2 separate regions of the Homo sapiens genome follow, and region 2 is linked to region 1. The links come from fine-mapping of genetic effects on plasma protein levels. A gene starts in region 1. The other region holds a variant in brackets. All regions are shown on one strand. Distances are from middle to middle.

Evidence for each region. PIP is the posterior inclusion probability: the model's chance that the variant is causal. The UK Biobank Pharma Proteomics Project read protein levels with antibody pairs (Olink). The fine-mapping took linkage between variants from a reference panel, not from the people measured, so its PIPs are less certain.
Region 2: its variant is fine-mapped to the plasma level of the PON3 protein (UK Biobank, PIP above 0.99).

The regions. Positions count from the first base shown.
Region 1 is chr7:95,395,059-95,397,966 of GRCh38, forward strand. PON3 (paraoxonase 3) reads right to left here and starts at 1,317. Exons shown (of 9, transcript NM_000940.3): 1 at 1,219-1,317. The coding sequence starts at 1,292. LOC107986822 (a long non-coding RNA gene) reads left to right here and starts at 1,414. Exons shown (of 2, transcript XR_007060439.1): 1 at 1,414-1,970.
Region 2 is chr7:95,323,160-95,326,067 of GRCh38, forward strand. PON1 (paraoxonase 1) reads right to left here and starts at 1,373. Exons shown (of 9, transcript NM_000446.7): 1 at 1,243-1,373. The coding sequence starts at 1,316. RefSeq lists a silencer at 1,317-1,496. The variant G/A (reference allele first, on the strand shown) is at 1,424.

The DNA of each region.
Region 1 (2,908 bases):
GTATCGTCTGTTATAAATCTGCACTTAATCCCCTACAGTCTTGCCCTTTGAACTTTTCCTTCCAAACTGCTTTCCCAAAATTCAACAGGGTCTCCTAATAGTCAAACTCTATCACTTTTGCTTTAATTTTTAAATTTTATGCTGACTTACTCCGCAAGTATGTAAATTCATTAAACCAACCACAATTTAAACAATTGGCCGATTTATTTTTCAACACAATTTTCTTGTTTCCAGAGTGAAAAGGAATGTTTCCACATTCTTCTAATATCAGGGATAATTTAAAATTTTTATTAAAGTATATTCAGAAAGACTCAATACTTATCTTACAGTCATTTATTTAAAAAAATACCCTTAGATCTACTTTATTATTATTACTATTATTTTATGATTCTCCATGTGGTTGCACTGGGAGCAAATGTAACAATAAAACTCTCAAACTGGAAGTATTACTAATAGGCACCAGGCACCTCAACAGATTCTAGACGTGATCCTCTAAGAAGACCAGCTTCAACTAAGAGAAATACATAAACACTCAAAGACAACTGAAAGCAAGCAGAGGCTTTCGATCCACTCATGAATGTGTATTATCACTTAAAGGTTCTTCTTTCTAGCCCAGTATTGACTTTTCCTGAGACATTTCTAGGCTGGCTATCACCATTGTATCTTCCACTTCAAAAGGTCAAATGCCTACAAAATGCCAGTTACCGCCTGCAGGTTTCAGCTGGTTTGCCCTGCTGTCTGGCCAGCTCTTTAAATCTAGGATAGGTTCCATAACCCAGTACTTCTGCATGGTTAGCCAGACCTGGGCAATGTCTCAGTCAGCCGTAAACATCCAACTGGTAGCCTGATCCTCTCTCCCAAGTCCGGCGTTTCCAATGGACGTCCTTTTTTCCCAAGCAGAATGTTGAGGGCGAGCTGGGAAAGGGGTCATCACGTTCAGAAAGTAAAAGGGGGTCATGACCTTCAGAAAGCAAAGTGGGGGATCATAACCTTCAAAAAATAAATGGGACTAATTCGGCTCGGCAGTCTTTGGAAACGCAAGTAGCTCACTTTCCCCATAAGCGAGTCTCAAGGGGCGGTTTGCTGGGTGAGATGGAGGAGTGAGGTTCCAAAGCTGCTCTTTCCTACCCGCTAGGAAGGGGGCGCCAGGCAGCCCCTGACCTCACTTGGAAGAGGAGAGAAAGAGAGTCGAAGACGCCCTGTCAAGATGCCACTCACCTAAACGCCAGGAACATCTCCCCGACTAAGGACAGGCCGACCCCCAGCAGGACCAGCGCCACGAGCTTCCCCATGGTCTCGGGGTGCCCAGCGGCGACTGCGCGGCGCCGAGAGCTCTCGGGGGCGCGGCGGGCGGTTCCTGCCTCGCGTACGGATTGGGGCCCGCTCGGCCCCGCCCGCACACGCCTCCTACTTACCTGAGCGGCCCGGGTGCCGCAGCAGGGCGCTGACGAGTCCCGCCGAGCCCCGCCGCCCGGGTTCAAGGCCGCCTTCACGCCCACGATTCCTTGTTTTTTGGGCAGAGGTCAAGGCTCAACGGAGAGGGAGCCCGGGACCGAGTTGTGGTGGGAGTTTGCTCCTAACACCCGCGAAATCCTACCTCAATTCCTCAGATGGCCTGAGGGAGAAACCGGAGGGCCCGGGAATGGCGGGGAGCTCCAGTTCAGAGCCGGAACTCCGGACTTCTGCAAGGCCAGACGTGAGGCGACACTGAATTGCTCCCGAGACGCGGGAAGGGCGAAGGCAATCGAAGCGAAGAGCTTTAACTCATCTTCTCCAGGATTTGGGGCACGGGAACCTGTCTCCTGACCTTCGTGCCTTACCTCGGAGTGTGCTGCCCAGACGGACTTGTGAATAGCTGCGTCTGTCCCCATAGTTAACGGGAGAAGGAAACACCAGGAGAAAAGAAGGAAAAGACAGGAAACGGGAAGAGGAGCAGAGGCGAGGAAGGGGAAGGTCATTTCCTTGGCAGGGTAGGCCCTCTTTCTTCTAGGTCTTGAGTTCCTGCCAGGCAAGAAATGCTCTTTCCCCTCTCCTGATGAACACCAGGTTGGAGGGGGAGGAACTGAAGATGCGGGAAGACTTGGGGAGTTCGGGCAAAGTAGCACATTCAAGCATGATCTATTTTTATTTACGGACAGAAAGAAATATTAGTTCTGTTAGGTTCCACCGAGTAAACTATTTGTTGAGAGAGCAAGATTTGCCAATCCTGGGGGTATTAAGGAAAGAAAAGGTGGTCCCTGACCTATGGGATACATGATTCTAGTATGAATACGTAATTACAGGATGAATAATGAAGCCCACCGCTTATGCAGTACTGACTGTGTGCTTTGCCTGTGCTGACACCTATGTTAACGCATTTAATTATCAACACAATCTCTGGAGTGTGGGTAGCCTTACCCCAATTTTACAGGTGAGACCTGCAGCACAGATTGCTTATGTGGCTTGCTGTAGGTCAGGCAGCTGTCAAGCAGCAGACTCCAAAATCTGGGCCCTTAACTGAGCTGCCTCTACCATGCTGCCTCTAGAAAATCTATGGAAGAAGGGTTGTATTAAAAGGACAGTGTAACGTCTTGAATTGTATAGATTAGAGTTCTTGTTAAGATGACTAATGTTAAAAGAGTGCAAGCAGAGGAGGAATCGAAGTCAGGAGGGCTCACAGAGCTGAGGGGCCTGGGGTGTGATGTAGACATGCATGCAGGGTTTGGGAGTCAGGCTGCCTGGGTTTGGATCCAGCCTAGATAAAGTACTCAGCTTTATTGAGCTACAGATTCCTCTTCTGTAAAAGAACGTCCACCTCATAGGTAGCTTAAAATTAAATGTGATAATGAGTGTCAAGTGCTCTGCACTGTGCTTGATACGTTTTATGAAGTCAGTAAAGATTAACCACTAATTAATTCTGAACTTTGCT
Region 2 (2,908 bases), 72 kb before region 1:
TGGTCCCCAGACCCAGTTGAGTAGCTAGGTTTTAGGGGTTTCCAACAGTGGGTAAAATTTCCCTTCCTTCCTCTGTCTGGGTCACTCCAGGAGGCTCAGCAACCCATCCTTTATCTATATATTTTTATCTATACCTATAATCTCCTTTGGCAGCCACCAGCACTGTGATTAATAAAAACTCACAAACTGTAATTTTTACATGATTTAAAAGCCAAGAATACCAACTGCTTCTTACTTTTTTTCTGCACTCTGTAACTTAAAAAAATTAGAAAAACATCCACAATAAATAGTAAAAACCCATTCTGAATGTAAGCTTCTAATTAGTCCATAAGCTCATATAATTTTTTTATATTTAATTTTTATTAGGTTTTACTTTAAAGTAAATAAGGCATTGTTGACTAAGCCTTAGAGACTAGGATGATCTGTAGACTTTGAACTCCTGTTAAAAGTTATGAAACTTTTGATACATTCTTAAAATATCCCCACCCCCCTTGTATAGCACTTAACCCTTTATTAAATACTTTAAAGGGAAGCAGGGAACTAACATTTATTGAATAGCTACTCTGTCGCAGGCAGTGTGTATTACTATTTCCAGTTTACTGAAGCAGCTAAGGTTAGAGATGTAAAGTGATTTGCCCAAATCGCATACTCATGGGGCAGAGCTAAACCCCAGGACATCAGATGCTGGCTCCAGGGTTCCCTCTTCCCCGCCTGCCCCCACTGAAGCGAACCATCACAGCACACGTTAGCTCCACCTGCTCGGGTCCACACGCAGTTTTGCTGTGGCCCTCAGTAGCCTCAATTTGAGAATCTTCAAGCCTGGAAGGTTTGCCATGGCCAGGCAGTCAAGGCGCAGAAGCGACAGGGGCTCCTTTCTCTAATACACAAAATATCAGGAGAACCCCCAGCCAGGTTAGTTTGTTTCTTTCCAGGTTGAGAAGTGAATCTGTAGCCAGGGCACACAAATCTTCATGAAAAATTAATTCGTGTATGCTGACAACCTGGGCACTCACACCCCTGGCAATTGCCTCCTTATCCCATGTCTCAGGCCATGAGCAAGAGTTTGTTTTCAAGTGACACATGACGGCTGGACAAACATTTATGAAACCCCCGCAGAGTGTGCATCTAGCACCTGCTTGTAAATGTTCTGTTAACAGCCTGGACCCAACTTTCTGGGGGCTCGTGGAGCTGGCAGGGAGTGAGGAGGACGAAGGCTGCAGCCCTCACCACAACCCAACTTACTGGTAAGAAGACTGGTGGTTCCTGAAGAGTGCCAGTCCCATCCCCAAGAGGGTGAGCGCAATCAGCTTCGCCATGGTCGGGGATAGACAAAGGGATCGATGGGCGCAGACACCGACGGGCTAGGAGGCTCTGCCTGCCTGCAGCCGCAGCCCTGCTGGGGCAGCGCCGATTGGCCCGCCCC[G/A]CCCCTCCCCGCCGGGTCGGCAGCTAGCTGGGCCGACCAGGTGCACAGAAGGCGTGGCTTGCGGTCAGCCCCCACCGCAGGAGCTCAGCACTTTCAGCCAAAAGTCCCATTTTGCTCCTTCCAACTGTAAAGAGAGAAGACAGAGAATAGGTGCCTAGTCCAGTCGGGGAGGGGAAATCAAACAAGCTGAAGTAAATTGCCATGGGAAAGGACAGTCAAGCTTTGGTGAGCACTCACTTTGTGCCATCCCGGTCCTTGCGTCTCAGAGAGATTCAGTAGCTTGATCATGGTGACAGCCAAAAAGGTGCGGAAGGGAGGGCTGTAGTAGGAACCCCTAAGATCTAACTGTTCTCACCAGGCTACTACTCTGTGTCACCTTCCAACATCTGGATTTCAAGCATTTTTCTCTCAACACCACTCTGACTTTAGAGTTCACTCAAGTACATCCCCCACACAGCTCATTCATTTCCTCATGCAGCTGGCATTTATTGAGTACCTACTATGTGCCAGGCGCTGTTCTAGATGCTACAGAACAGGACAAAACGTCTTCCTCAAGCTTACGTTCATTCCAATGGGGGGAGTCAATTGAGAAATCAGCAAAACATGTCACTGTGGCATATATAATGCTCTAGGTGATGCATGTGTGTGTTATGGATATGCACATATGTTATGGAGAAAACACATAAAGCAAGAAAGGGGATAAGGAATACCCTCTGCTGAAGAATAGCAGTCAGAGAAGTTCTCACTGATAATGGGGCATTTGAGTAAAGACCCAAAGGAGGTGCCTCTGTACAACCATGTCTCTCTTCTCTGCTGTCTGCTGTTACTGTGAATGATTTGCTCCATGTCTCTTTCCTTCTCAAGGCTTTTGGTCCCAGTTATACCTTCTCTCTTCTGCAATATCTGTCCTTTCATCTCTTGTGGAATATTGCCAGCCAATACCAACATGCTTTACTTATCACCTTTAGCTTTCTGGGGGGAAGCTTCTTTGGCCTCACATTGTAACTACTGCCCTCTCTCTCTGCTCCTTCTGAACACTTGCTCTTAAGCCTTGAGCTACTATGTAAAAAACCTGACCACTCCACTGGAGCATTCACATGAAAGGCCATGAACATATGGAGAGGGAAAGTGGTCAGCTGAAGCCAACCTCTTAACCATCGGCACCAAGGAAGCAGAAATGAATGAAGTGGGCTATTAGACAAGCCCAGCCACCACAGCCTGGCCACCAACTGAATACCACTGGCTAAGCCACCCTGGTTAACACCAGGTGGAGCAGAAGAATCTACCTAAGAAGTAGAACCAATGAATCCAAAAGAGAAGAGTATTCGAAAAGAGGGGGAATGATGATCTGTGTCCAATGTGGCTATGAGTTGAGTATGCTTATGGCAGAGAAGTAACTACTGAATTAGATAACATGGATACAATAGGTGGTTTAATAAGAACAAATTCTACACGAGTCAAAAGAACACAAACCATATTAGAATG